3 linked regions of the Homo sapiens genome follow. The protein of the gene in region 3 interacts with the protein of the main gene of each other region in a biochemical or structural test. Each region holds a gene or a part of one and is shown on either strand. Other genes may lie near its edges.

The links.
Region 1: the proteins of MAVS (region 3) and CNTN1 form a complex in vitro, tested with the Homo sapiens proteins (one study listed by BioGRID).
Region 2: the proteins of MAVS (region 3) and SGTA form a complex in vitro, tested with the Homo sapiens proteins (one study listed by BioGRID).

What each region holds. Positions count from the first base shown.
Region 1 is NC_000012.12:41,066,421-41,072,925, reverse strand, and holds the end of CNTN1 (contactin-1 isoform 1 precursor), read right to left. Parts: intron 2,968-6,505; coding exon 2,891-2,967; 3' UTR 511-2,890; downstream 1-510. UniProt on the Homo sapiens protein: Contactins mediate cell surface interactions during nervous system development.
Region 2 is NC_000019.10:2,773,264-2,780,291, forward strand, and holds part of SGTA (small glutamine-rich tetratricopeptide repeat-containing protein alpha), read right to left. Parts: intron 1-7,028. UniProt on the Homo sapiens protein: Co-chaperone that binds misfolded and hydrophobic patches-containing client proteins in the cytosol. Mediates their targeting to the endoplasmic reticulum but also regulates their sorting to the proteasome when targeting fails.
Region 3 is NC_000020.11:3,849,822-3,856,849, reverse strand, and holds part of MAVS (mitochondrial antiviral-signaling protein), read right to left. Parts: intron 2,293-7,028; 5' UTR 2,226-2,292; coding exon 2,109-2,225; intron 1-2,108.

The DNA.
Region 1 (6,505 bases), on a different chromosome or scaffold from region 3:
AACCAGAATCCAGGGTGAAGCAAGCTTCATGAAACAGGAAGGGAGATGAGAATTCCAATGCGAAACCACGATCAGAACACAGGAGAAAATGGGAAGGCAGGACACAGGCAGCCGTGGGATGCAGTTTTCTGGGCCCAGCCTGTCTCAGGACTCAGAAGCTTTACCTGTAGCAGACTCCTCCTATAGATTCATGCCATTATGCAGATACCTCTATTCCAGACTCGCTCATTCAGGGTTACAAAGTCTCATTTTCTTAGCATCTAGCAGCTGGCTTTAGTGTTTCACTTTACATTGAATGATATTCACTGACATCTTTATGGGTTGAAGTTATTTACCAGGTGAACTTATTTCAATGTAATAATGACTCTGTGTGTGTTTCTATGTGTGTACTTTTTGTAGTACTTCAAATACTGAACTGTTGCTTAACCAGAATATTTATTCCCTGCTATCGAACTTGTAATGAAAACCTTCTAAAAAATTTAAACTTGAGGTAAATTGAAAGGACAGTTGTTCTTTCTTGGGTAACATAAGACATTTATTACTTTATACTAATTTTTTCATTCATAAAAAGGACAAAGCACAGTCCTATACTACTCCATTGAAAAAATGATAAAAAATAACTAAAAAATCAATTCAATATTTATCAGTATCAAATAAAACTACTATCACCTTTCCTGAAATACAAAGAAACAACAGATGTATCTATACCTATATAAAGTTTAATTCAGAATCTTGCGTCTTAAAGCAGATGATTATTAGTTAGCTTGACAACAGTTTAAAACTGATGGTCCCAGTTAAATCTGTACAACTGTATGAGAAAATGAAAAGCTTGAGTTATCAGTGTACGAGAGATTTTAAACTACTTTATCTCTGTCAGAAATTCAAAACTAAACAACCTCCAAAGTCTGTTTTCCTCTTACCTTTCAGAACCATTTCATGCAAAATCTAACCAGTTTTGCTCGTTATTATCATATATTAGAAAATAAAAGGCAAGCATGCATTTGGCAAAAGATTTAGTTGTTGATTATATAAAAATGCCCAACATGGGTCACATTGCAAAAGTAAAACCCCAAAGTGTAACAATGAAAACACAAACATTTGTACAGAAGGTATACAGGGTATTCGTTTCCCTAAAGTATGAAGACATTTTGTTTCTTTTTCAAATACTTAAATATTTTATGAAATCTGGCAATGATCTTAAGACTGTTGACATACTTCCACTGGGAAATCATCCATTTCACTTATTTTTAAAAGTTTCATTTTATACCAGAGTTAAATGTAAACTAATGAAATATTTATTGATATTTTCATAATGAAGACTCTAAACATTTACACATCGATATATAGTACAAAAATTATACAAATTAAAGAAAGGGGGTAAAGTCGGTAAAGTAGTAATAGATCTATTTTGCTTCCTGTAAATATTTTTTACGAACCTATACGGTGTCCTTTCTAAAAAGATAAACTCTAATTAGCTAGCAAGTTTGTGCTAATAAAATAGGATTATACCTCTTGAAGCATCCAACACTGCACTATTTCACAAGCCAGCTAATTCTTTATTACTCGATTTCTTTTACATCCACACTCAAACACATTTCCATGCACACCATGGAGAATGAAGAAATGTGCATCTTCCTTTTCACAACTTATAAAAACCCAAAGCACCAACACTTGGGAGACACCATCGGAAAGACATATTATTTGCCTCCTCCTGGCCTTCCAGTTTTGCATACTCTTCAAAGTACCATTAGCAGTATATTGATTTGGTATTTTTAGCCAGTTTTCAGTATTGCATTGAAGTGGGAAATGAGCTTAAAACTAATTATTATTATTATTATTATTGTTATTTTTACAAAATGGAATACGGTAGCTTTTTCAACCTACAGGTGACTTTTTGATCTGACATCTGCAATAAAGAAACGTAATACTTAGGAATGAAGCAGAAAAACCAACATACTAGTAATTGTGATATTCACTTAACTGTCACTTATTCCTAACCATGTAAAGACTGTCACATCTCAATAAAAAAGGAAGCACTCTACTTTTCAAAATTTGTCACTCCACATATGAACAAATATAGCAATATTATGATACTCTAGATAAGAGCTGTGATTTTTGAGATTTGAAATTGATAAGAAAAGCATAAAATAACTTCAGAGTAGAATATAAAAGTAAAAAAAAATCTATATGGTATGTTAACTTTACTATTAAAAAACTGATTCTGAAAATCAAATATTTAGAAAATTATTTCCTTTGAAAATAAGAATACTGATAGTAAGTTCTAGAATTTGGTTTTCAATAGTCAAAATCTTTCAACTCATGATTTGATAATGGGATTTCTGACAAAATATTTGTTACACTCTATTGTCTTTTCAAGAAAACTCAAGATGTCATGAATGATAGGGGCCATTCAATAATATGCAGTACCCAAAACAGTGAGGAAAGTACAAGAGACTGTATTACTCTTACATTTACCACATACAACCAACATTTCAATCTCTATTATATTTCACAACTTGTTATTAAATTTAAAGCACCTGTATATGGTGATTTGACTTTCACTCTACAGCCTATAGTATTGAATTGAACACTGTAACTTGTCCCATTGGGTTAAATCATGCAACTGTCACAGAATCAGGTTAAGTGGTTTATAAGGCATATTGGAACGAGTTAAAAATCATTTATATCCATTTAAAAGTTTATTCTTTTGGATGAAGGGGTTCCCGAATGCCTCAGTCATCATGTGTGTTGTAAATCAGTTGAATAGTTTGTTAAAGTATAATTTATTTGGCTTAGGATGGAGCCGCAGAAATTGGAAGGAATTGTGGTCATCCCAGGGTTGAAGGGTGTCTTCTGAGCTGGGATGGGAACAGCAGCTGTCACAACACATTCAGAATTCCAAGTAGACAAGGATGCCAAAGGCAGGCAGCAGTAAGCCGAGAAGACTTGGGGATAGGGTGGGTGCACCTGCAAGGTAAACCAAAAGTGTGCATATTATTTCATTGATACATGTCACTATTGCTCATTTAGTCTGCTTCAGCTAAGGCGAGATTGCATAGCCCTGGAAAACAAATGGGTCCTTTCACAAAACAGAATCTCTTATTCTTACATGATTTAAGAAAAACAAAAGCTTTTGATCAAAGATTTTCTGTGTGAGACCATGTGAACTGTTTACACAACATGATTAATCATTTAAAATAATATGATCACAAATGTGTATGCTGTCCCTATGATCCAGCAGTCCCAAATTCCTACCAGAAGGCAAAATGTCAAGAAACATATATACATGCATTAAAAAAGTAAGTTTTAAAAATAAGATAAAGTTGTGGGGTGGGGGGAGTGGGGAGGGATAGCATTAGGAGATATACCTAATGCTAAATGACGAGTTAATGGGTGCAGCACACCAACATGGCACTTGTATACATATGTAACAAACCTGCACATTGTGCACATGTACCCTAAAACTTAAAGTATAATAATAATAAAATGTAAAAAAAGAGATACAGTAAAAATACTAATAATTTTTCCTGAAACAATGACAACATAGGTATGCTAGGTAAATCTTGCATAATTTCACATCCCAATGGTTTTAAGACATTTATACATTTATACAGAATGACTTAAGTAATGTATTTCTGATATTAAATAATCTCATTCAATTTTTATCTAAAGAACAATTGCCCTGAGATATTACACTGTGAATTAAAAATTGAAATGATGTATTATAATATGCTATGGACTTAATTTACGTCTTGGGTGACACTTAGAAGGGCTACTCCTGTAGTCAAGTAAGTTTATGGGTCCGTGTCCTGCCGACATGAGAATTTTTGAGAAACTATTGTAAAGTAGGACCAAAAAGTCATACTCTTTCTTCCCAATGTCCACAACTATTAGGCACTATCTTCTTTTTAAATAAATTAATTATTATTTTTTAAGATACAGGGTCTTGTTCTATTGCTCAGGCTGGAGTGCAGTGGTTCAGTCATAGCTGACTGCAGCCTCAAACTCCTGGGCCCATGTGATCCTCCTGCCTCAGTCTCCCAAAGTGCTGGGATTACAGGCATAAGCCACCATGCCTGGCTGGCACTATCTTCAATGAACATGCTGCTAGAATGAGTGAAGACCTAAAAAATTTAGTCAATGGCTTACTAATATAACAGTTTTCATTAATTTTTGGAAGTTTACTCTCTAAATTTGAAACCACCAAATAAATTATTATTATCTATCACATTAAAAGTGACCATAAACAGCTCATTCTTTGGCATGGTCCTTTTATATTCAGGGAGATTTAGTGCATTTCTCCTGAATCTCTGGTCATTAAAAGCACATTCATGTTCCCTATAAGGTGGAAGATAATAGTGTCTGTCTGCTTGCTTGTCTTCAACATTGCCCTGCCTGGGGCTTTTGGAGCTGCCTGGAAACATAAGAGGGAAAGCTTTATCGGATACAGATAAAGTAGTTCTTAGAAATGAGCAGGAAAGTGAGGGTCAAAAGGTGAGGGCAGATAACAAGGGGAATATAAACAGCCCTCAAGTAGCAGAGCTCCTAAGGACACTATCAATAACAATAGTAAACTTATCATTACTTTGAGAGATGCTACTTACTGCCCTACAGCCAGCTACAAGACTATGTTGGCTCATTATGTAGATTATGACATGACTACAACAACCTACAATGGTAGGTCTTTTACCCTAATTTTATATATTTTGTAACTGAGTCAGGTAAAATGAGTTGCTCAAGTCCAATAGTCACTAGAGGGCAGAGAAGGGATTAGAATTCAAATTTGTCCAGCTGCAAAGGCCATGCACTTTTGACCTCTCTGCCGTGTTCTTGCAGGTAGCTTTAGCAAGGGACTGGTTTTAGAAATGCAGAAGGAAACTGCGCTCTGCACTTAATGTATCAAGGCAAGGGCACAGAAGGAAAATAATAAATGTCATATGGAAAAAAGCTAACACATAAACTGTTTCAAAGAGATCTTTGTATTCTTGTAATTTTTTTTATCTTCTACTTTTCTACAAATTTTTTAAAATATGCCACAGACCACACATTATTTTATTCTGATAAGATGCCCAATAATAAACCTCAATCACACAGTAAAACCTTTAAACGTCAATGTTTGACCCAGTGTAAATGATCCATCCTGAAGCCTTTTTTTTTTTATTATACTTTAAGTTTTAGGGTACATGTGCACATTGTGCAGGTTAGTTACATATGTATACATGTGCCATGCTGGTGCGCTGCACCCACTAACTCGTCATCTAGCATTAGGTATATCTCCCAATGCTATCCCTCCCCCCTCCCCCACCCCACCACAGTCCCCAGAGTGTGATATTCCCCTTCCTGTGTCCATGTGATCTCATTGTTCAATTCCCACCTATGAGTGAGAATATGCGGTGTTTGGTTTTTTGTTCTTGTGATAGGAATTGGAAATCATCATTCTGAAGCCTTTTTTGTCTGAGGATGACTGCAGGGTCTCCACAATGCTCTGTCTTTTGACCACAAATTACATCTATCATGGGGACATGTTTATGTACTTGGCTGAATATGTGGGTTGGCAAAGTACAAACTGTGGCTGCTCGAAAGAAATTTAGTGAATTGTGGATGCCATCTTGATGTTTTGGTACTAGTATGAAAACCAAATACAATTTCATAATTTGTGGCTTTGACATCAGGATATTTGAAATAAACTCTCCATGTTTACGTGTGTTATATTTAATTTCTCTAATGGCTCAAGCTTATGTAATTTTGGTCTTCATCTTTACTTCTATCCCACATTCCAAACAGAAATTAGAGACCGAATTGAAGTACTATCTAATGTCATTTTAAATGACATATATTCTTGAGGAGTTTTTCAATATATATTGGTTTTGAATCTAACAACATATATATCAGAATACTGCTATCAATCATAATTCTGGTACTTATGTGTTATATAGTAAACACATATTTTGCTTTTCACATAGCTGATGAATGTTAAACCTGAACAAATCATTGATCTTGTGAATAATTTTTCTCTATCAGAAGAAATGTAAAACCAATTTGGAGTACTATATCTCTTCCATGGGAATTCTTGATTTTTTTTTAAATCTAAACTTTGATTTCATACTTCCTTCAGGGAGAATTCCCGCTATATGGAGAGTGATGCTGAAAACAGACATTTCAATTAAAAGTTGAGCAGTACTGCAGGCTTTCTGATAAGTAGAAAACTGCTCTACTTGGTTTTTAATACAAACTTCCTTTCTGATTCTTCAATCTGGACACTGTGATGCAGTCTTTGTTTCTACTGCTTGCCTATTGCTGACGATGCCATAACATTTAGAATTTTCTCTTTGTGGTGTCACATTTTGTGACCACAACTGCTAATATCTCTATATTATGAACAACTTCAAGACAGAGATGATATCCAAATTATGTTTTAGCTGTGTTGACTAATACCAAGCCTAGTGCATAGAAAGTACTCAACCTATAATGTTAAATGATTGAGTTATGCCTCCATTGTAGGCCC
Region 2 (7,028 bases), on a different chromosome or scaffold from region 3:
ACGCGGCCACAGGGCAGGGACACCGAGGGCAGAGATGGGTGACGCGGCCACACGGCGGGGACACCGAGGGCAGAGGTGGGTGACGCGGCCACACGGCAGGGACACCGAGGGCAGAGGTGGGTGACGCGGCCACACGGCAGGGACTCCGAGGGCAGAGGTGGGTGACGCGGCCACACGGCAGGGACACCGAGGGCAGAGATGGGTGACGCGGCCACACGGCAGGGACACCGAGGGCAGAGGTGGGTGACGCGGCCACAGGGCAGGGACACCGAGGGCAGAGGTGGGTGACGCGGCCACACGGCAGGGACACCGAGGGCAGAGGTGGGTGACACGGCCACACGGCAGGGACTCCGAGGGCAGAGATGGGTGACGCGGCCACAGGGCAGGGACACCGAGGGCAGAGATGGGTGACGCGGCCACACGGCAGGGACACCGAGGGCAGAGATGGGTGACGCGGCCACACGGCGGGGACACCGAGGGCAGAGGTGGGTGACGCGGCCACACGGCGGGGACACCGAGGGCAGAGGTGGGTGACGCGGCCACACGGCAGGGACACCGAGGGCAGAGGTGGGTGACGCGGCCACACGGCAGGGACACCGAGGGCAGAGGTGGGTGACACGGCCACACGGCAGGGACTCCGAGGGCAGAGATGGGTGACGCGGCCACACGGCAGGGACTCCGAGGGCAGAGATGGGTGACGCGGCCACAGGGCAGGGACACCGAGGGCAGAGATGGGTGACGCGGCCACACGGCAGGGACACCAGATTGCCCTCACGTCCTCACAAGGAACGAGCCCCGACAGAACCTTGATCATGGACTTCCGGCCTCCAGGACTGAGAGACGATGAACTCTGTTTCAGCTGCCTGGTCTATGGCACTCTGTCACCGCGGCCCCAGCAAACCGACACTAACACCTGGCAAGCAGGCATCTCAGGACGCACCTCAGTCCTCGTGACGACTCCAACAAGCGGGTCGGCCCTGTCTCCAGCTGAACTGAGCCAGGTTGGGCAGGGACGCGTGGTCGCATGCCCAGGATCACATAGACAGGAGAACAAACGGGCTGTCATCACACGGAAGGGAGCAGTGAAGGGCGGTGGCCGAGGGACACGGAGGGAGGGAGCAGCTGCGCGTTGCTCACTGTGCTGCGGTCCCAGGAGCCAGCTGCCCGAGGGGCAGCTTCTTTTATAAGAAAACGACACTTCCTATCACGTCTATGCAAATGTCCATTTTAACTTTAAGTGCACAGATGTCTAATGGCCCGAGACACGTAGGTTAACACCCGTGCACGCGTACACAGAGGCCTTCACCTACAACCATCCCCGTGTAGACAGCATCAGAGGCAGGGCACCAAAAGCATTAAAACCATGCAGATGACCTACCTGAGCACTTCGCAGACCTAGAACGTCAACTATGTAAAATACCTGCCCATGAACATTGGCAAACTCCTGGCCTCAAGCAATCCTCCCACCCTGGCCTCCCAAAGCGCTGGGATCACAGGTGTGAGCCACCATACCCGGCCTCCTCCAGGAGGCAAATGCTGAGGAAAGCCGTGGATTCTACTGACCCACTGGATTTTGCTGAAGCTGTGTGCGCGCGCATGTGTGTGTGTGCGTGCATGTCTCTCCAGATTCTGTCTCTCTCCCAGACCAGCGGTTCTCGATGGATGTGCTGAGACACTTGGTGTTGTCTCACATGGAGTGGGGGGAGGCCAGGGACGCTGCTCAGTGCCCTGGAGTGCCCAGGACGGCTCCATCCCAGAGGATGATCCGGCCTCAACATCCACAGCTCCCACTGGGAGAAAGCTGGACTAGAAGAGGAGGACCTGAAGAGCCTGTGGGTGCACCAGGCCCTTGACACAACACCGTCTCATGACCTCGGCGCAGTGACCTATGCGGCAGGACTGGGGATGGAGGTGTTCACTCAAGGCCACTGGAGCCACAGGCACGGCAGGATCCGCGCCCGGCAGGCGCCTGACCTGCCCCCACACTCAAGATCAGAGGCGTTCAGTGTCTTGGTTCCCCTAAAATGCCTCTACATGAGGTGAACAGCCACCACCCCCTAGAAAATGAGGCGTGGGCTGCCTGACCGCATAACCCACCCCGCGCCAGAGACAAGCAAGGCATTGGCCCGCCACGCTTTAAACAGTGGCTGACGTCAGACTCAGATGACACCGGCGACGTGGACCTCCACGCCACTAAACAAGCATAGTCCCAGACACACTGGGTGTGCCCACAGCTTTGTTTCCCTTTCAGGGAAAGCAACATCCATCAGCAATCATTAAAAAACAAAACAAAACAGAGAGCAAAAGAGCCAGACCCAAAGCACACACAGGGTGTGACACCGACTCCATTTCTATGAAATGTCCAGGACAGGCCCATCCAGAGACAGGAAGGAGACGCGTGGGTGCCGGGGCTTGGGGAGGGGAAGGGGAGTGACAGCTGGTGGGGACCAGCTTCCTTGCTCCCTTTTGGGGCGATGAGACAGCTCTGGAACCAGAGAGTGGTGATGGTTGCACAACCCTGTGAAGGCACCAAATGCCACTGAATTTCACGGTGTGGGGATCACAGCGGTGTGGGAATCACAGCTCAATGTTTTAAAGGGGGAGAAATCTACAAGAGCTGTGTTTTGTGTCGCTGGACAGGGAGTTACGGTCTTCCTGAAAGCTCCTGCGGGATGGTAATGAGTTTTCCGCCCCCATCTCAGGACACAATGGACAGCCCAGAACTTTGAGGTCTGGGATCAGGACTGCCTAGAGCCGGCGGGCAGCCAGTCCCAGAATCCAAAGATCTCATGTACGACACATCAGGGCCCACGGCAGTCAACCACCACCAGAAAGTGAAACCACAAAAGCTGACGTCATCCGCCCCGGCCAACAGGGTTCAGAGAGCAAACCAGTCAGGTCTCCTGACCCCCAAGCCCAAGGAAAACAGACACATGCCACCCGAAAGGTGAAGATTTTTGGTTTACGGAGTTTCTTTTGTTTTATTTTTAAGCACGTTTTGACAACAGCATTACAATAGCCAAAAGCAAACAGCCCAAGTGTCCACGGACAGGTGAGTGGATCAACACAATGTGGCCTAGCCACACGACGGAACGCTACGCAGCCATGAAAAGGAAATCCTGACCAGGCTACAACATGGGCGGACCTTGAGGACGTCGCACTCAGTGAAATAAGCCAGAAACAAAGGTACAAAACCTGTGTGACTCCCCTCCTAGGCGGTCCCTAGAGTCGTTGGATTCACAGAGACCAAAAGTGGAATTGGGGGTGCCAGGGGCTGGGGAGTGAATGTTTCATGGGGACAGAATTTCAGCCTGGGGAGATGAGAAACTTCTGGAGATGATGGTGGCGATGGCTACATAGCTGTGTGAATGTGCTTAAAGCCACTGAACTGTGCATTTATAACTGATTAAGATGGTAATTTTTGGCCTGGCATGGTGGCTCACGCCTGTAATCCCAGAACTTTTGGAGGCAGAGGCAGGTGGATCACCTGAGGTCAGGAGTTTGAGACCAACATGGTGAAACCCCATCTCTACTAAAAATGCAAACAAAATTAGCCAATCATGGTGGCGCACACCTGTAGTCCCAGCTACTCAGGAGGCTGAGGCGGGAGAATCGCTTGAACCCGGGAGGTGGAGGCTGCAGTGAGCTGCGATAGAGCCACTGCACTCCAGCCTGGGTGGCAGAGCAAAACTCCGTCTCAAAAAAAAAAGAAAGACTGGTCGGGCACAGTGGCTCATGCCTGTAATCCCAACACTTTGGGAAGCCGAGGCAGGCGGATCACCTGACATCAGGAGTTCGAGACCAGCCTGACCAACAGGTGAAACCCAGTGTACAAAAAATAGCCGGTCGTAGTGGTGCGCGCCTGTAATCCCAGCTACTTGGGAGGCTGAGGCAGGAGAATCACTTGAACTCGGGAGGTGGAGGTTGCCGTGAGCCAAGATCGCACTACTGTACTCCAGCCTGGGCAATAAGAGCAAAACTCCATCTCAGAAAAAAAAAAAAAGACCAGGCGCAGTGGCTCACACCTGTGATCCCAGCAGCACTTCGGGAGGCCAAAGCGGGGGGATCACTTGAGCATAGGAATTCAAGAGCAGCCTGGGCAACATAGGGAGACCCCATCTCTGCAAAACATTAAAAAATTAGCTGGGTGTGGTGGCACACATCTATAGCCCTAGCTGCTTGAGGGGCTGAGGCAGGAGGATCGCTTGAGCCCAGGAGGTCCGTGCTGCAGTGAGCTGTGATCACACCAATGCACTCCAGCCTGGGAAAGAGAGTGAGACCCTGCCTCAAGAAAAGAGTTTCTCTTCAAAGTCTGGGGTCTTTGAGATGAGGGTCACACCCAACCAGGTGTCTTTAGCTGAGAATGGTGCCGACATCTCTTCAGAGGTTTCATTGGAAATGATTCTGTAACAGGCGGCATCAGGTCAGGATCCCCAGGCAGACACACCTCACTTGGTGACCTCAGATTTGGAAGAGGCAACAGCAAGCAGCAGAAACAAGACCTGGGCCAGGAGCGGTGGCTCAGGCCTATAATCCCAGCACTTTGGGAGGCTGAAGTGGTCTGGAGTTCCTGACCAGCCTGGCTTCTACTAAAAATACAAAAATTAGCCGGGTGTGGTGGCGGGTGCCTGTAATCCCAGCTACTCGGGAGGCTGAGGCAGGAGAGTTGCTTGAACCTGGGAGGTGGAGACTGCACTGAGCTGAGATCGCACCACTGCACGCCAGTCTGGGTGACAAAGCAAGACGTCATCTCAAAAAAAAAAAAAAAAAAAGAAATCAGACCTGGCTGAGTCCCCGCATAAACCTAGAAGGCGGGGGTCACAGCCCCCTCTTACAGAGGGAGTGACAGGCCCAGACAGGTGGCACACGCAAGATCCTACCAGTGACAGCTGGAACTCGGCTTAGCATTCCAGGCACACAGGGCCTAGCACGATCCACGCTGAGGGGTGTGGGGGGCAGGGGTGTGTGTGTGGAGGGGGATGTGCGTTCCTTCGCAGGGAACTAACACAGAATAAACCAAGAAATCTCATCTTTGGTTCTTTGGTGTACCTGTTTCCTTCTCTCTTAAACTGAGGTGTGAGAACTGGACAGGGTGGCAGGTGGCTAGGGACCCAATGAGGGTTCAGAAAGTGGAAAGAGTTGCATTCACTGAGTCACACTCCTCTCTTCCAGTGCCGCCGGTGCCTCTGTACCCCAGGGCTTTTGCACGTGCTGCTTTCCCTCCTGGAACACCGCCCCCCCCGGCCCCCGCCGCCACATCCCAGAGAACCTCTTAGCCTCAGGGTCTCCACCCTACCCCATCCCTGTTACCCTGGGACAGAGCTGAGCAGAAGTGCCCCAGCTTAGACACCCTGGGCTAGGGGATGCCACGGATCCCCAAGAGACTCTGTGTCCCATGATCATTTGCTCTACTAAGGTCCCAGGAGGCTGCACACATTGAAATTCACAAACTATGGAGGATTGCTTGAGCCCAGGAGTTTGAGGCCAACTTGGGCAACAAAGTGAGGCCCTGTCTCTAACAAAACAAAACAAAACAAAAGATAAAATAAATCCACACACTAAGGGGAGAGGGAGCAAGGAGGTGAATCCTAGGAGCTGGGGACCCCCTGATTTCCACCCTCTGCCCAATCAGAAGTTTATTCTGCTGTCCAGTGTGAGCAGGAGCAAGCTCAATTTTTTTCCCAAATAATTAATGCAGGTCTGTCGCCTGTGGCACTGTGGGCATCTTGGGTGGATGATTCTGTCCTGCGCACGGCAGGGGGCTGAGCAGCACCCCTGGCTCCCCCCACTGCACACCAGAAACACTCTCCAGTTGAGACAACCACACATGTCCCCAGACACTGCCAAACCGCCCCCAGCTGTAAATCACTGATGGCCACTAAGTGGGAAGAAAGGCTGGAAGTCAGTACAGGTCAGCTTTTTCTGTCCAAAATGACTTTGCTGTGAGCTTTCTGAAAACCTTCTGCTTGTAGGCTATTCTGGGTTTCAGAACTGCGGGTCCACGGTGGAGGACTGCTCAACTAAGGGAAGCACAGGCCCTGCCCAGCATGTGACACAGGCCAGTGGTGCCAGGACCTGTGGCTTCTCTGCTGTCCCCAAGGTGGGGGACATCATCAAACGGTTCTCAAATCTGCTTCAACAGCCAGGCTTTCCCGTAAGAAAGTTTTCTGCTCTTCAGAGGGGGGTCCAGCAAGCATGAGGACGGCATTTTCCTCAACTGCCGTTTGGCACTCGGTGTCTTTGGAACAATCACAACTTGTAGGGTTTGGCTGTGGGACAGCATCTCAAAGAAGGCCTGCTGTGTCTCCCAACAGCGAGGGCTTTATGGATGCTCAGGAGCCATGGCCGAGGCCTGGTTTCAAGGCAGAGGCCGCAGAAGTGAGGGTGGGAGGGTGCTGGCCCATGGGGGTGGCGCCAGCTCCAATGTTGGGGGCTTCAGCGTCCCTTTCGGCTCTGAGCCGATGACTCCACATCCCACCTTTTCATTTTATCATTAAAATAAAAACAAAATCAAAACACAGCCACCTCGGTCGGGGCGGTGGCTCACACCTGTAATCCCAGCACTTTGGGAGGCCGAGGTGGGAGAATCGCTTGAGTCCAGGTGTTTAAGACCAGCTTGGGCAATACAGTGTATAGTGAGACCCTACAAAAGAGACTCTAAAAAAAAAAAATAGAATTAGCCTGATGTGGCGGCACACACTAGTAGTCCCAGCTACTTGGGAGGCTGAGGCGAGAGGATTGTTTAAGCCCAGGAGTTGGAGGCTGCAGTGAGCTGTGATTGGGCCCTGCACTCCAGCCTGGGTGACAAAGTGAGACCCTGTCTCTAAAAACAAACAAAAAACTCACAACCACCTCTCTTCCTTATTTCCCTGCCCAGAAGGGATCATTCAATGGAAAAAAATAGAACATCCTCGTAAACTGAGGTCGTCTTACCTCCTCACACCCCAGTAGGAAGGGCCCGCTCTTACCCACTACCTTCTGTGAACACTCTGCCCAACTCCATCCCAAATCCACGGTGCTTCTCACCA
Region 3 (7,028 bases):
GTTGGCCAGGCTGGTCTCGAACTCCTGACCTCAGGTGATCCACCCGCCTTGGCCTCCCAAAGCGCTGGGATTACAGGCGTGAGCCACCGTGCCCAGCCCTAGAGTTTTTATGTCTACCTGAATTCTCACATAAAAACAAGCAACCAGACAGCAGAAACAAAAACCCACAGAATCCTGCAGGAGCTAGATTTTTAGAAAAAGGAAAATAGCCAGGTGCGGTAGCTCACACCCGTAATCCCAGCACTTTGGAAGGCCGAGGATCACAAGGTCAGGAGTTCAAGACCAGCCTGACCAACATGGTGAAAGTCCGTCTCTACTAAAAACACAAAAATTAGCCGGGTGTGGTAGCATATACCTGTAATCCCAGCTACTCAGGAGGCTGAAGCAGGAGAATTGCTTGAACCCAGGAGGCAGAGGTTGACCCAAGATGGCACCACTGCAACTCCAGCCTGGAAGACACAGCGAGACTCCATCTCAAAAAAAAAAAAAAAAAAAATGCTGGGCGCAGTGGCTCACGCCTGTAATCCCAGCACTTTGGGAGGCCGAGGCGGGTGGATCATGAGGTCAGGAGATCGAGACAATCCTGGCTAACACAGTGAAACCCCGTCTCTATTAAAAATACAAAAAATTAGCCGGGCATGGTGGCAGGCGCCTGTAGTCCCATCTACTCAAGAGGCTGAGGCAGGAGAATGGCGTGAACCCAGGAGGCAGAGCTTGCAGTGAGCCGAGATCACACCACTGCACTCCAGCCTGGGCGACAGAGTGAGACTCCGTCTCAAAAAAAAAAAAAAATCGTGCCACTGCACTCCAGCCTGAGTGACAGAGCAAGACTCTGTCTCAAAAATAAAAATAAAGACCAGCCTGGCCAACATGGTGAAACTCCATCTCTACTACAAATACAAAATCAGCCAGGTGTGGTGGCATGCGCCTGTAACCCCAGCTACTCAGGAGGCTGAGGCGCGAGAATCACTTGAACCCAGGAGGCAGAGGTTGCAGTGAGCTGAGATCATGCCATTGCACTGCAGCCTGGGCAACACAGCGAGACTCCGTCTCAAAAAAAAATTTTTTAAAGAAAATAAAGAAAACCCACAGAAAATATTTACTATAAAACAAGATATCCCTATAAACCCCAAAATACAAGAGGGAGGAGCAAACTCCAAACAGACCTGCATACTAATGCGATCTGTGTGGGAGGACAGCGGAGACAACAATGGGGCTCCTGAGAAATCTGAGGACAGGAGGCCCCAAAAGAGCCAACAGGTACCCTCTGGAGCACAGGGGTCCAATCTGAGAACAGCAGCTACAACGGGGAGGGGTTGTGCCCGTTTCACCAGCTAGTGAGTGCCAGGGGCCTGCAGCAAGTTCTGTTGGGGCTAGAGCGACCCTGATCCTGCCAGCTCTCAAACCTGAGTCCCAGCTCCGTGCCAGGACAGGGCCCCATGACAAGGAGAATGGAATCAAAACTGAGCAGGACAAGGAAGGGCAAGAGAGATGAAGGAAATAGGAGGTTCCAAAAAAAGTGGGCAAGTGGACCAGAGCCAGGAAATCTCAGAGAGCCAGCGCCATATTTTTGAGCAGTGCACAAAAGCAACACAAGGGGGAGCTCGGCGAAGTCAGCAACGCCACCCTGAGCCACACTCCATCCAAAAGTTAGAAAAGCAGCAAGGGTGCGGTGGCTCACGCCTGTAATCCCAGCACTTTGGGAGGCCGAGGCAGGCGGATCACAAGGTCAAGAGATCAAGACCATCCTGGCCAACATGGTGAAACCCCGTCTCTATTAAAAACAAAAAAATTAGCTGGGCGTGGTGGCACGCACCTGTAATCCCAGCTACTCAGGAGGCTGAGGCAGGAGAATCACTTGAACCCAGGAGGCGGAGGTTGCAATGAGCCAAGATCGTGCCACTGCACTCCAGCCTGGCGACAGAACGAGACTCAATCTCAAAAAAAAAAAAAAAAAAGAAAAGCAGCAAGGACAAGGAGCAAGACACAGCAAGAGGAAGAAGGAAGGAGCCAGCCCAGGCTTGGGTGAGGAACTAGGATGGGGCTGAGCTTTGAATTCCACAGCCCTGCCCCCAGGCCAGTGTCGGGCTGTCACTTCCCTTGCTCACCTGGTCTCTTGCTGTGAGGCAGGGCAGGTAAGGCAGAATCTCTACAACATCCACATTGCAAAAATTGCTGAAATTGCGGCAGATATACTTATAGGTCTTGTCTTCAGCAAACGGCATTGCTGCTCAGATTCTGGAGAGAGGGCTCTGGCCCCATGAAGGGTGGATGGACTGAGAGGAAACGAGACTGGAAGAAAACAGATCACACATTACAACAGGGTTGGGGGGTTGGGAGTGGGGCTGGACAAAAGGCAATTCTTTCTCAACTTTTTGGAATGTTTGTTTTCTTTCATCTTTAATTTCTTCTTTTTTTTTTTTTTGAGAGCGAGTCTCACTTTGTCACCCAGGCTGGAGTGCAGTGGGGCAATCTCGGCTCACTGCAACCTCCGCCTCCTGGGTTCAATTGAGTCTCTTGCCTCAGCCTCCCTTCTGAGTAGCTGGGATTACAGGTGCGCACCACCATGCCCAGCTAATTTTTGTATTTTTAGTAGAGATGGGGTTTCACCATGTTGGCAAGCTGGTCACAGACTCCTGACCTCAAGTGGTCCACCCGCCTCGGCCTCCCAAGTTTGGGGATTACAGGTGTGAGCCACCACACCTGGCCGTTTTTGTTTTGTTTTATTTTGTTTTTAAGAGATGGGGTCTCGGGCTGGGCACAGTGGTTCACGCCTATAATCCCAGCACTTTGGGAGGCCAATTTGGGGGATTAACTGAGGTCGGGAGTTGGAGACCAGACTGACCAACATGGAGAAAATCCCGTCTCTACTAAAAATACAAAAAAAAAAAAAAAATAGCTGGGCATGGTGGCGCATGCCTGTAATCCCAGCTACTCGGGAGGTTGAGGCAGGAGAATTGCTTGAACCTGGGGGCAGAGGTTGCGGTGAGCCAAGATTGCACCATTGCACTCCAGCCTGGGCAACAAGAGCGAAACTCTGTCTCAAAAACAAACAAACAAACAGATGGGGTCTCTGTCACCCAAGTTGGGTGCAGTGGTGCAATAATAGTTCACTGCAGCCTCGAACTCGTGGGCTCAAGCAATCCTCCCGCCTCAGCATCCCCGGTAGCTGGAACTACAAACCTGCGCCACTATGCCCAGCTAATTTTTTTATTTTTTCTAGAGACAGGGTCTCATGATGCTGCCCAGGCTGGTCTCAAACGCCTGGCCTCAAGCGATCCCCCTGCCTCCGCCTGTCAAGTAGCTCGGATGACAAGCACCAGCCAATGTGTCCAGCCACCTTTAATTTCTTTTTTTTTTTTTTGAGACGGAGTCTTTCTCTGTCGCCCAGGCTGGAGTGCGGTGGCGCGATCTCGGCTCACTGCAAGCTCCGCCTCTCGGGTTCACGCCATTCTCCTGCCTCAGCCTCCTGAGTAGCTGGGACGACAGGCGCCCGCCACCACGCCCGGCTAATTTTTTTGTATTTTAGTAGAGACGGGGTTTCACGGGGTTAGCCAGGATGGTCTCGATTTACTGACCTCGTGATGCGCCCGCCTCGGCCTCCCAAAGTGCTGGGATTACAGGCGTGAGCCACCGCGCCCGGCCGCCATCTTTAATTTCTGTAAACATCCTATTTTATTACTGCCTGAGTCTCTCCAAAATTCCTGCAGAACCCGGGCGCGGTGGCTCACGCCTGTAACCCCAGCACGTTGGGAGGCCGAGGCGGATGGATCACGAGGTCAGGAGTTCAATACCAACTTGGCCAAGATGGTGAAACCCCGTCTCTACTGAAAATACAAAAAAATTAGCCAAGCATGGTGGCGGGCGCCTGCAGTCCCAGCTATTCAGGAAGCTGAGACAGAGAATTGCTTGAACCCAAGAGGCGGAGGTTGTAGTGAGCCGAGATCACGCCACTGCACTCCAGCCTGGGCGGCAGAGTGAGACTCCGTCTCAAAAAAAAAAAAAAAAAAAAAAATTCTGCAGAATTTGCTAAAAATGAATTGATGACCACCAGCTACTCAAGAAGCTAGGGCAGGAGGATCGCTTGAGCCCAGCTGTTCGAGGCCAGCCTGGGCAACACAGCGAGACCCTGTCTCTAAAAAAATAAAAATAAAAATAATTGAAGACCAAAAAGAATCAGATCCAGAATACCTAGGGCCCATTTCTTCTCTGCAGGTTGGTCAGCACTGGGAAGGTCTGCATGTACCCCTAGCACATGCGGTGGGGGGATCTGTATGTGACCCTAGTTTCTGTGCCTATAAATGTCCTGGCTCCCTTCCTGGCTCTAAGGCCCTCAAGCTGATAGCAAGAGGGCTATACCTAAACGTGCTGCTGCTTTGGGACACACTGAAAAAATAAAAAGTGAACCCCAACATGATAATAATCGGATCATCCCGCTTTAAAGAAGAAACTGAGGTATGCTTGCTAGTTAGTAGAAGAAGAAAGAACTGAGATCTTCAGGTCAGCTTCTTTCCATGACATGGCTGCAGGCCCACCATTAAAGCCTGCTACACATAGGCCGGGCACGGTGGCTCACGCCTGTAATCCCAGCACTTTGGGAGGCCGAGGCGGGTGGATCACGAGGTCAGGAGATCAAGACCATCCTGGCTAACACGGTGAAACCCCGTCTCTACTAAAAATACAAAAAATTAGCCCGGCGTACTGGCGGGTGCCTGTAGTCCCAGCTACTCGGGAGGCTGAGGCAGGAGAATGGCGTGAACCTGGGAGGCGGAGCTTGCAGTGAGCCAAGATTGCGCCACTGCACTCCAGCCTGGGCGACAGAGCCAGATTCCGTCTCGGGGGAAAAAAAAAAAAAAAAAGCCTGCTACACATACATTCTTTTTTTCTTTTTTGAGACAGAGTTCCAGACTCTTGTTGCCCAGGCTGGAGTACAATGGCACAATCTCGGCTCATCGCAACCTCTGCCTTCCGGGTTCAAGTGATTCTTCTGCCTCAGCCTCCTGAGTAGCTGGAATTACAGACATGCACCACCACACCTGGTTAATTTTGTATTTTTAGTAGAGACAGGGTTTCTCCATGTTGGTCAGGCTGGTCTTGAACTCCTGACCTCAGATGATCTGCCTGCCTTGGCCTCCCAAAGCGCTGGGATTACAGGCGTGAGCCACCATGCCCGGCCCACATACATTCTTAAGATAGGAGACTGAGTTCCATGCCTTGAACTCACTGTGTGTCCTGGGCAAGTTATCAGTTTCCAGACTTCCTCACCCTTAAAACGGCTCAGATAGCAGCTTGTTTTGACAGTACGGTAATTCAGCCTTATAAACTTTTTTTTTTTTTTTTTTTTTTGAGACAGAGTCTCCCTGTCGCCCAGGCTGGAGTGCAGTGGTGTGATCTCGGCTCACTGCAGCCTCCATCTCCCACATTCAAGCAATTCTCCTGCCTCAGCCTCCCGAGTAGCTGGGATTACACGTGCCCACCATCATGCCTGGCTAATTTGTTTGTTTGTTGTTGTTGTTGTTTTTGAGAAAGAGTCTCGCTCTGTTGCCCAGGCTGGAGTGCAGTGGCGTAATCTCGGTTCACTGCAACCTCTGCTTCTCGGGTTTAAGCAATTCTCCTACCTCAGCCTCCCGAGTAGCTGGGATTACGGGTACACGCCACCATGCCTGGATAATTTTTATATTTTTAGTAGAGACGGGGTTTTATATGTTTTAATGTTGGCCAGGCCGGTCCTGAACTCCTGACCCCAGGTGATCTGCCTGCCTTGGTCTCCCAAGTTGCTAGGATTACAGGCGCCAGCCAACGCGCCTGGCCAATTTTTGTATTTTTTAGTAGAGACAGGGTTTCACCATGTTGGCCAGGCTGGTCTCGAACTCTTGACCTCAAGTGATCCTCTTGCCTTGGCCTGCACAGTGCTGAGCCACTGTGGCCGGCCTCTAAGCTTAAATTTTTTTTTTTTTTTTTTTTGAGACGGAGTTTCGCTCTGTCACCAAAGCTGGAGTGCTGTGGTGCAATCTCGGCTCACTGCAAGCTCCACCTCCTGGGTTCACACCATTCTCCTGCCTCAGCCTCCCGAGTAGCTGGGACCACAGGCGCCCGCCACCACACCCGGCTAATTTTTTGTATTTTTAGTAGAGATAGGGTTTCACCGTGTTAGCCAGGATGGTCTCAATCTCCTGAACTCGTGATCCGCCTGCCTCGGCCTCCCAAAGTGCTGGGATTACAGGCGTGAGCCACTGCGCCTGGCCTTTTTTTTTTTTTTTGAAATGGAGTTCACTCTTTTTGCCCAGGCTGGAGTACAATGGCGCGATCTCGGCTCACTGCAACCTCTGCCTCCTGGGTTCAAGCGATTCTCCTGCCTCAGCCTCCCAAGTAGCTGGGATTACAGGCATGAGCCACCACGCCCCGCTAATTTTGTATTTTTAGTAGAGACAGGGTTTCACCATGTTCCGGTCTCGAACTCCCGACCTCAGGTGATCCGCTCACCTCGGCCTCCCAAAGTGCTGAGATTTACAGGCGTGAGCCACCGCGCCCAGCAGCTTAAAAAAATTTCTTTTTTTTTTTTTTTTTTTTTTTTTGAGACAGTCTCGCTCCTTCACCCAGGCTGGAGTGCAGTGGTGCAATCTCGGCTCACTGCAAGCTCCGCCTCCCGGGTTCACACCATTCTCCTGCCTCAGCCTCCCAAGTAGCTGGGACTACAGGCGCCTGCTACCACGCTCGGCTAATTTTTTGTATTTTTAGTAGAGACAGGTTTCACCGTGTTAGCCAGGATGGTCTCGATCTCCTGACCTCGTGATCTGCCCGCCTCGGCCTCCCAAAGTGCTGGGATTACAGGCATGAGCCACCGCGCCCAGCCAGCTTAAAAATTTTTAAGTGCCTCAAATATAAGCAATTGCTGCCAGTTGTTTATGTAGGAGTTACCACAATTTGCAGTTATAGATGTATTTGCTCGTTACTTTTCTGCCGCCCCCATCAGGGAGTGCTGCAGGGAATAAAAGAGACAAGGTCTATGCCACATCCAATTTATATTC